Homo sapiens: one gene and its partners. The protein of the gene in region 1 interacts with the protein of each later gene in a pairwise test. Each region holds a gene or a part of one and is shown on either strand. Other genes may lie near its edges.

Evidence for each region. Proteins that work in one complex are often made in the same cells at the same time.
Region 2: the proteins of CASP10 (region 1) and ECE2 interact in a two-hybrid assay, tested with the Homo sapiens proteins (one large-scale study listed by BioGRID).
Region 3: the proteins of CASP10 (region 1) and PHF20L1 interact in a two-hybrid assay, tested with the Homo sapiens proteins (one large-scale study listed by BioGRID and IntAct).

The regions. Positions count from the first base shown.
Region 1 is NC_000002.12:201,207,141-201,210,640, forward strand, and holds part of CASP10 (caspase-10 isoform 1 preproprotein), read left to right. Parts: intron 1-934; coding exon 935-1,043; intron 1,044-1,149; exon of another isoform or gene 1,150-1,327; intron 1,328-1,929; coding exon 1,930-2,422; intron 2,423-3,500. UniProt on the Homo sapiens protein: Involved in the activation cascade of caspases responsible for apoptosis execution. Recruited to both Fas- and TNFR-1 receptors in a FADD dependent manner. May participate in the granzyme B apoptotic pathways.
Region 2 is NC_000003.12:184,286,022-184,289,521, forward strand, and holds part of ECE2 (endothelin-converting enzyme 2), read left to right. Parts: intron 1-1,815; coding exon 1,816-1,926; intron 1,927-3,415; coding exon 3,416-3,500. Other genes in the region: EEF1AKMT4-ECE2 readthrough transcript protein, read left to right, coding at 1,816-1,926, 3,416-3,500. UniProt on the Homo sapiens protein: Converts big endothelin-1 to endothelin-1. Also involved in the processing of various neuroendocrine peptides, including neurotensin, angiotensin I, substance P, proenkephalin-derived peptides, and prodynorphin-derived peptides.
Region 3 is NC_000008.11:132,841,388-132,844,887, forward strand, and holds part of PHF20L1 (PHD finger protein 20-like protein 1), read left to right. Parts: intron 1-1,127; coding exon 1,128-1,488; intron 1,489-2,765; coding exon of another isoform or gene 2,766-2,768; coding exon 2,769-2,931; intron 2,932-3,500.

The DNA.
Region 1 (3,500 bases):
AGTGCAAATGAGATTTATCCTTTGTCCTGGGCTCTAGGACTTAAAAAAGAATCTTTGAAATTTTATTCAGATCACAATTGTGCAGTAAAAGTGAGTTGCAGAGTAGTCAGAATCCCCAGTTTTTCAATATGTGACTTCAGAAATAATGTGGCATAAATACCCCAAGGGGTTTAGACTAGAGTATAAAAACATGGTTTTGGACAGGCATGGTGGCTCATGCCTGTAATCCTAGCACTTTGGGAGGCTGAGGTGGGCGAATCACTTGAGGTCAGGAGTTCAAGACCAGCCTGGCCAACATGGTGAAACTCTACCTCAACCAAAAATACAAAAATTATCGGCTGGGCGCGGTGGCTCATGCCTGTAATCCCAGCACTTTGGGAGGACGAGGTGGGCGGATCACAAGGTCAAGAGATCAAGACCATCCTGGCCAACATAGTGAAACCCCGTCTCTACTAAAAATACAAAAATTACCTGGGCATGGTGGCGGGCGCCTGTAGTCCCAGCTACTCGGGAGGCTGAGGCAGAAGACTCGCTTGAACCCAGGAGGTGGAGGTTGCAGTGAGCTGAGATCACGCCATTGCACTCCAGCCTGGGTGACAGAGCGAGATGCTGTCTCAAAAAAAAAAAAAAATTATCTGGGGGTGTTGGTGGGCACCTGAGGCAGGTGGATCCCTTGAATCCGGGAGGCAGAGGTTGCAGTGAGCCGAGATCGCGTCACTCACTCCAGCCTGGGCAACAAGAGTGAGACTCCATCTCAAAACAACAACAACAGCAACAACAAAATAACAACAACAACAAAAACATGGTTTAAACAACTGGCATGGGGAGATACATCCTGCTCTTCCTCACAGTGGATCCATTGGAGTGGTTGGTTAGAAACATTTAAGGCCCTAAGATAAGGATTCCTACTAAGTGGCTCTATCTATTCTTCAAGAGGGCAGCTGTGTACAGGATGAATCGGAACCACAGAGGCCTCTGTGTCATTGTCAACAACCACAGCTTTACCTCCCTGAAGGACAGACAAGGAACCCATAAAGATGCTGGTAAGAAAGTCTGGAACAGTTTATCAAATGCAAATTGGGGATCTTAAAATTATTTTTTATTTTCACATTTTCTTTCTGTGACTTTTATCTTCCATATACGTGTAAGGATGATATCATGTTTCTGAGCCTCTTATATATCCCTGGGGAGTCATCAGTCTGCTAAAGAGTGGCAAGAATCTTTGACTATTCACAATTCTGAATAGAGGAGAGCATGTACTGGGGGAGAGCCTGCTGGATTGGCACGAGACAACTTGGGCGTGAGCTCCAGCTCCACCACTAACTAGGTGTGTGATCATGGGAGAGTCAAGAGACCTTGGCTTCTTCAACTGTGAAACAGGATGAAACACTGGCCACTGCCGATTCTCAGGACTGTTGTGACAACACTGGGTATTACGTGATAGGAGATTCATTGTAAGATTTTATGGTTATGAAAATAAAAATAATCCAAAGCTTTAGGCTATTTGCTGTGCAAATTTTGTAACTATTAGCATTGTTTCAGTTTTTTTTTTCTTTGAGACAGAGTCTTGCTCTGTTGCCCAGGCTGGAGTGCAGTGGTGCAGTCCCAGCTCACTGCAACCTCTGCCTCCCAGGCTCAAGCCATTCTCGTGCCTCAGCCTCCCGAGTAGCAGGGATTACAGGCGTGAGCCACCACACCTGGCTATTTTTTGTATTTTCAGTAGAGATGGGGTTTTGCCATCTGGCCAGACTGTTCTCAAACTCCTGACCTCAAGTGATCCGCCTGCTTCGGCCTTCCAAAGTGCTGAGATTATAGGTGTGAGCCACTGTGCCCGGCCTTGTTTCAGTTCTTCATTTTGTTTTGCATCATTTTATTATTTCCCCTTTCTCTCTCTCTCTCTCTTTTTTTTTTTTTTTTGTTTTTAAACAGAGATCCTGAGTCATGTGTTCCAGTGGCTTGGGTTCACAGTGCATATACACAATAATGTGACGAAAGTGGAAATGGAGATGGTCCTGCAGAAGCAGAAGTGCAATCCAGCCCATGCCGACGGGGACTGCTTCGTGTTCTGTATTCTGACCCATGGGAGATTTGGAGCTGTCTACTCTTCGGATGAGGCCCTCATTCCCATTCGGGAGATCATGTCTCACTTCACAGCCCTGCAGTGCCCTAGACTGGCTGAAAAACCTAAACTCTTTTTCATCCAGGCCTGCCAAGGTGAAGAGATACAGCCTTCCGTATCCATCGAAGCAGATGCTCTGAACCCTGAGCAGGCACCCACTTCCCTGCAGGACAGTATTCCTGCCGAGGCTGACTTCCTACTTGGTCTGGCCACTGTCCCAGGCTATGTATCCTTTCGGCATGTGGAGGAAGGCAGCTGGTATATTCAGTCTCTGTGTAATCATCTGAAGAAATTGGTCCCAAGGTGAGAGCTCTTTTTTTTCTTCCATTTGTAATTAATTAGTTTTATTTATTTTTTATTTTACTCTCATTCAACACCTTTGGTAAGGGTGAGAGTTCTACGTTGTTCTATCCATGTACCTGTTCAACCATCTGCCTACCCTCCTGTTTATCTATTTATCCATCTATCCACCCATTCATCTATCCATCCATCTATCCACCCATTCATCTATCCATCCATCCATCTGTCCATCCATCCATCCATCCAGCAACCTTGTATTGAGTACCAGCCTGGACCTGGAAAGGAAGATACAGAGTTAAAAAAAGACAGAGTCCTTGCCCTCAGGTTGCTTACAAGCTAGAGGGATAGACAAACAAATAGACGGGGAAGGGCATCCCCAGCTGGTAAGTGCACATTGTGAAGTATAGGTGTTATGGGAACATGCAGAATGAGTACCTTGCCCAGATTTGAAGGATCAGAGGAGGCTTCTAGAAATGACAAATAGATGTTAGGTAAAGAATCAGGTGAAAGATGTGCTGGGCAGAGGGAATAGCATGAACAAAAGCATGGGGGCCTTTTATTTGTTCGTTTATTTATCACTCACTCTTACGTCCTGAGCACCTATGTGCTATCTTTGGACTTCTATTTGCCACTGCTCTGACAGCTTCCCTTCTGTCTCTGCCACATGCTGTCCTCTTGGCACCTTTAGCCATACCTAGAGGCCATGGGCTCCTCCATGAAAACGTCTCCAAAGTTGCCATCTCTGGCCCACTCATCTCTGAATTCCTGGGGGCAGAGACCCTGTTTCATTCAACTTTATATCCTCAGCCCCTGACCTGATATATTGTGAGCTTGTTAAACATTTGCTGGGCCAATGAATGACTTGCTTGAGCCTGTCTCATTAACATCCCGCTAGATATCCTACCTCTGTTTAGCCCTTGGACCTCACATTCAGCATGCATGTTTCTGAGCTCATCTTCCCAGCTCTCTCCAGGAGCTCCTACTCCTGAATTTCCATTTGAAGGAATGGCCATAGTGCTCTTCTGGGAATTCAGGATTGGAACCTTGAGTCAACTTTGCTTTTCTCTCTTCTTTACCAGCC
Region 2 (3,500 bases), on another chromosome or scaffold:
GTGATAACTGCTCACACTGAGTGAAAGACTTTTCTGCTATAGGACAGAGGTGGGACAGCACATTTCACCTGGGGGGATGGTGGGGAAGGGCATCAGAGAAGCCTTCTCTGAGAGGTGCCATGTGATGGAAAAGTTCACCAAGAAAGCCGGGGAGAAGGGCATTCCAGGGACAAGGAACGGCATGTGCAAATTCCTAGAGGCCAAAAGGAGCATGGTGGCTTTACACACGTTCTGGCATGAGCTTGAGAAGAGGGCAACTGAGAGACGGGGTTTGGTAAGGTGGGCATGGGGCACTTGGGAAGGGATCTGAATATTGTATTGGGAAGTCCGGCCTTGATTCTTTCACAGATGGGGCTCCATGGGAGTAGCATGGAGAGGAGAAACACAGTTGGGTTATGTATGAAATGATATTTCTGGTGGCTAAATGGAAGATGGAGGGGAGCAGCAGGGAAGCGGGGATGAGAATGGAGTCAGGGTGTCCAGTTAAGAGGCAATTGCAGGCCAGGCTTGGTGGCTCATGCCTGTAATCCCAGCATTTTGGGAAGCCAAGGCAGGTGGATCACCTGAGGTCAGGAGTTCAAGACCAGCCTTGCCAACACGGTAAAACCCCATCTCTACTAAAAATACAAAAAATTAGCTGGGCGTGGTGGCAAGCAACTGTAATCCCAGCTACTCGGGAGGCTGAAGCAGGAGAATCACTTAAACCTGGAGGTTGCAGTGACCTGAGACTGCGTCATTGCACTCCAGCCTGGGCTACAAGAGCAAAACTCTGTTTAAAAAAAAAAAAAAAAAAAGGCAATTGCAGACTGAGTGTGGTGGCTCGTGCCTGTAATCAGCATTTTGGGAGGCTGAGGTGGGTGGAGTGCTTGAGCTCAGGAGTTCAAGATGATAGTGTTATAGGTCAGGGAAGTGGTAATCATTTTCCCCGTCCACTTGAGTGGATGGGAAAGATGATTAAGAAATCAAAGCAGGCAGGGCGCCGTAGCTCATGCCTGTAATCCCAGCACTTTGGGAGGTCAAGGTGGGCGGATCACTTGAAGTAAGGAGTTCAAGACCATCCTGGCTAACACGGTGAAACCCCGTCTCTACTGAAAAGACAAAAAATTTAGCCGGGCGTGGTGGCGGGCGCCTTTAGTCTCAGCTACTCGGGAGGCTGAGGCAGGAGAATGGCGTGAACCCGGGAGGTGGAGCTTGCAGTGAGCTGAGATCGCACCACTGCACTCCAGTCTGGGTGACAGAGTGAGACTCCATCTCAAAAAAAAAAAAAAAGAAGTCAAAGTAGTAGAAACTGCTGATAGACTGAATGTGGGGGGTTAGGGAGATGGAGGAAGCTGAGTGACTCCCAGGTTTCTTGCATGGGGGACTGACTGGATATAAAATTAGTTGTGGGCCGGGCACGGTGGCTCATGCCTTTAATCCCAGCACTTTGGGAGGCCAAAGCGGGCAGATCACTTGAGCTCAGGAGTTCAAGACCAGCCTGGGAAACATGGTGAGACCCCTTCTGTACTAAAATTACAAAAGAAAATAGCTGGGTGTGGTGGCATGTGCCTGGGGTCCCAGCTATTCGAGAGGCTGAGGTGGGAGGATCGCTTGAGCCCAGGGGACAGAGGTTGCAGTGAGCAGTGATTGCACCACTATACTCCAGCCTGGGTGACAGAGCAAGACCCTGTCTCAAAAAAAGACAGATGTGGCACTGAGCAAACCCAGGACTCTTGTCCAGAGCTGAGAAGGGCTGCTAGCCCCAGTGACAGAGAAAGGCCCTCTGACTGGAGGACACAGCCATCTCTAGGGTCCTGGCTCTTTGTCCTTTAACAGTCCTGTGTGCCGAGGTGGCAGACCTGCATCTCCAACACGGATGACGCCCTTGGCTTTGCTTTGGGGTCCCTCTTCGTGAAGGCCACGTTTGACCGGCAAAGCAAAGAAATTGTGAGTCTACAAGATTCTTTCAACACTATGCCCTCAAAATTGACTGTTCATGTATGTGCAGACATATAGAAAAACAACGGGAGCCAGGCGCGGTGGCTCACGCCGGTAATCCCAGCACTTTGGGAGGCCAAGGCGGGTGAATCATGGGGTCAGGAGTTCGAGACCAGCCTGGCCAACATGGTGAAACCTGGTCTCTACTAAAAATACAAAAAATTAGCCGGGCGTGGTGGCGGGTGTCTGTAATCCCAGCTACTTGGGAGGCTGAGGCAGGAGAATCACTTGAACCCAGGAGGCGGAGGTTGCAGTGAGCCGAGATCGCGCCAGTGCACTCCAGCCTGGGCGACAGAGCAAAACTCTGTCTCAAAAAAAAAAAAAAAAAAAAAAGAAAAGAAAAGAAAAACAACTGGATGTAAATTGATGAACAAATGAAGTAGTGCTGCTTTGGGCAGTGGGATTATAAGAGTCCTTTAAAGTTGTCTATGTGTTTATGTTTAACTATATAACTAGAAGAAATATTTATTTATTAGGATATGATAATGGATGTGCTTAAAGTATTACCTGTAAGGATGTTTATGGTTTTTATGGCAATGTTGTTTATAATAGCAGAAAATGAGAACAGGTTAAATGTCCAACTATAGGGTAAAGGAAAAATAAATTGTGGTTAGGATGGGTTGTGAGGATCCTTAAATGGCTGATATATCTTTCAGCAAAAAAAGTAGGTTACAAAAAATATATACCCTATACAACATAATTCCATATTTTATATGCATATCAGGGGAGGGAAAAACTCTAGAAGTGGGTAATCAAAATGTTAAAAGAACTTATCTATGAATGAGTGCTTTATAACTGGTCTGTTCTTCAATTCTCAATTTTCCAAATTTTCTGTGAATGTCCTCTTTTCATAATCAGATAAAAATCATTGCACTAGGCTGGGCGTGGTGGTTCACGCTTGTAATCCCAGCACTTTGGGAGGCTGAGGCGGGTGGATCACGTGGTCAGGAGTTCAAGACCAACCTGGCCAAGATGGTGAAACCCCAGCTCTACTAAAAATACAAAAATTACCCGGGCATGATGGCGGGAGCCTGTAATCCTAGCTACTTGGGAGGCTGAGGCAGGAGAATCGCTTGAACTCGGGAGGCGGAGGTTGCAGTGAGCCGAGATTGCGCCACTGCACTCCATCCTAGGTAACACAGCCAGACTCTGTCTCAAAAAAAAAAAAAAATCATTGCACTATATTAAATTATAATATAATTTGATGAACTTATTGTCAATTAAAATGTGTACTTAATTAAGAAAAAAGCCAGCCACAATCCCAGTACCTTTACAAATGGTGTTTCCTTCTCATCGTCTCCAGGTGCTCAGCCGTATTTCTTTAGTCTAGACGTTCCCATTTCCCCTGGGTGGACAGGGATGGGGCACCAAGGGTGGATGGGTGGGGCAGGGATGCATTCAGTGCAGGGGAAGGCTGACTTTACCTCCTCCCTCCCAGGCAGAGGGGATGATCAGCGAAATCCGGACCGCATTTGAGGAGGCCCTGGGACAGCTGGTTTGGATGGATGAGAAGACCCGCCAGG
Region 3 (3,500 bases), on another chromosome or scaffold:
TTACTGATTGAGTGTTTTAGTATTTTCTGAATATTAAACTACTAGGGATTCAAATGATAAAATTTATAATTTCAGAAACAATACTTGAGTATTATTGGAAGAGAACTAATTTGACTCAGTATGTATCTAATTTGGAAATTATTAATATGCAAACATTATTGAGCCTTTTGAAAGGTTTATATCTCCCGAATGCCCTTTCACTTCAGCTCTGATGATTGGATTCCTGTTTTACTTACTGCAGAATTAACTGTACAATATCATGCTTACATGTTCAGTGAGGATGAAGTAAATGGGCATTATCAAAGATTGTTGATGGGGTTGTAATTAGTATAATCCCTTTTGAGGTCACTTGGGTAGTACCTATCAAAATAAATGTGCATGTTATCCAGCAATCCCATATCTAGAAATTTATCTGACTGAAATATTCTGACTTGTGTGCAAAGACACACACAGGTACACAAACATATAATGGTAGGGAATTGGTTGGCTCGACTGGTACATTTGTAACTCTTCAGCCCTAGAGTAAAAGTAAGGGAAATCTATCTGTATGACATGATATGGCAAGATGCCCCTAGCATGTTACGTACAAAAAGGCAGATTGTATGTGTCCTGGATGTGTCACAAGAAGATGTGTATACTTATCCATTTAAGAACTAATTTTAGGTATACAGAAAAAGTCTGGAAGATTATACCTCAGTTATTTATGTTTGCCATGGGAGAGGAAATTTTTACTTTCTGTGCATTTATATTTAGGATTTTTGTCATCAGGAGTTATCACTTTTTGACTGAATAAAAGTTTTTAAAATATGCTCACATTAAAGTTTTTCAAATTTTACAATGAAAATGACAATGACAAATCAGTAGAAAAAGAAATGCATGTATCAAATGATGATGTGAACTATCAACACAATTAAATTTGTTATTGCTTTTCTGAGTATTATTTCTTTAATTGAGAAGATTCAAATTTTGGATGAAATCATGGAGGGAGTTAATTTAAAGATTACCTTTGCTTTTGTCTTGAGTCCTAGATGTCCTCCTAACCTAATTCTGAAATAGATCATTGTATTCAGCTTGTTAATAGATTTTTTTTTTTTTCTGAACTGCTGTTTTTCCAACTTTGTTTTAAGGAATAAACATCATCCTGACCTTCATCTCTGGGCTTGTTCCGGGAAGCGAAAAGACCAAGATCAAATAATAGCTGGGGTGGAGAAAAAAATAGCTCAAGACACAGTTAATCGAGAAGAAAAGAAATATGTACAGAACCATAAAGAACCACCTCGTTTGCCCCTAAAAATGGAAGGAACTTATATAACAAGTGAGCATAGCTATCAAAAGCCACAAAGTTTTGGTCAGGACTGTAAATCTCTCGCAGACCCTGGGAGCTCAGATGATGATGATGTTAGTAGTTTGGAAGAAGAACAAGAATTCCACATGAGAAGTAAAAACAGTTTACAGTACTCAGCAAAAGAACATGGAATGCCTGAAAAGGTAAAACTAGTTCATTTTTCTTTGCTTGGAAACTATGAGAGAAGAACAAAGGAAAATTTTATAAAATAAGGCATACTGAATTCCCAGATTTTAGTTGTATTTCCAAGTTCCCCAGTACCTTGTTAAAGTAAGGAGATTTTTTTGTTTTCTCTACAGGAAAACACTGGCCATTTGAACATTTGATTATCTCCTAATTCAGAATTGTAGTAATTCAATAAACTGTTACTCTAACAAAAGTTTCAATTGTATAAGTACATTTCGATGCTTCTAAAAAATGAACCACATTGTATTCAAAACGAAAATGTCAGTGTGTAAGAATGTGAAAGTACATATGGGTGTAATGATTTGTCTTCCTCTTTATGTGAGTTAGATAAAAGGTGGCACTCTAATTGTCTGTTTAAAAAATTTTAGCATGTTTGTCAATGCATCCCACTATTCAGTAAGGTGAATTCTGACAGATCTATGTGCATTGGACATCTATAAACTTATTTCCTGTTCACTGGGATTATCTTAGAAATGTACCTTTATTTTTTACTGATTTTCAATTAATGAGGCCACTTTAAAATTAGATGTTTTTTTTCTGCATTCCTTAACAAGTAATTACCATAAATAAGTACTTAAGTGAATTGGAACGTTTGTATTTCGTATCATAAAGTTTGTGGTAAGTTATTTTGTTTAATTAATATCCCATGTGCAAAATGAGTTATCTCTGGCAAATCCAAACGCACATTGTGTGTGTGTGTGTGTGTGTGTGTGTGTGTGTGAAGCAGTTTGTACTTTTGAAACTTGTAAAAGGTTTTTGCCTTTCCCTCCCTTCATTGATTTACTGTACTATAACAGTAAAGTCCAGTCTGTAGTTAATTAGATTTTATACTGGTCTTTGGAAACGCTCTTGATTTCTTTTCATCATTGCTTTCCACTCTTATGTCCACTTATATCACCAGCTGAGATTAATTGAGGAAGAGGCCAGTCTAAATTAATCAGGAATTCTAATTACACAATAGAATTAGTGACTTCATTTATTTAGCGCATTTTATTGAAGCCTTCTTGCCTGTGTAGCACCATGCGAGGCATAGTGGAGGGAGGTGGTGGGTGCATCAGCTCTTAAGAACCACCAGCTGGAATTTGGTTATGTAGCAGTACTTCTTTAAAGATACCCCTGGAGTCAGATTGGATCTCACTAACTGTTACCAGTGATGAGGTGTTTCCTGTATCCTTAACTCAATGACTGCATTTCATCCCGTTCTTTGTGTTTATTTTCCAATGGTCCTTTGGAGAAGAATCCAGCTGAAGGGAATACAGTATTTGTTTATAATGATAAAAAGGGCACCGAAGACCCAGGAGACTCACATCTTCAGTGGCAGCTCAATCTCCTTACACACATAGAAAATGTGCAGAACGAAGTTACCAGCAGGATGGACCTAATAGAAAAAGAAGTCGATGGTAATTTAAGAAAGAACTAAAATACAGTTACTATAGTGAATTTATTGTTACTATGAAGAAGTTACTTAAAATTCTTAAATTATGGGATGAAAACTGCAGATACTCTCCATACCGATGGGGCTTTATTACTCCCTTTGTATTGTATTTAACACATTTGGGATCTTTTACGCTTAAAACAATGTGACCGGGTATGACCTTAGGTTGTTTTTACTTTTTTAAGGTGGATATTTATTAAATACTGTCTATTTGCCAGGCTCCAGATAGATCACTTATGGAATAAATTGATTAGTTTCATTGAACTAAGCTTTCTTTGGAAGTCAACATAAGGAATTTAAGCATGTTTGAAATGTGAAAACATTTTGAATATTTTTTACTTTGGTTAGCACTTGTTAAATTAACAAAAACTTCTACAAAGTTAAGTAGGTAAACCTTAAGTGGTTTTCTTTTATATTTTAAAATTGTGTCATCACACAGGAGGCCTGAAAAGTGGGCAAGAAAGATACTATCACTACTTTATAGTTGAGAAACTAGAGTAACTTAGACTACCTGATTCTCAGTCCATGTTGTTC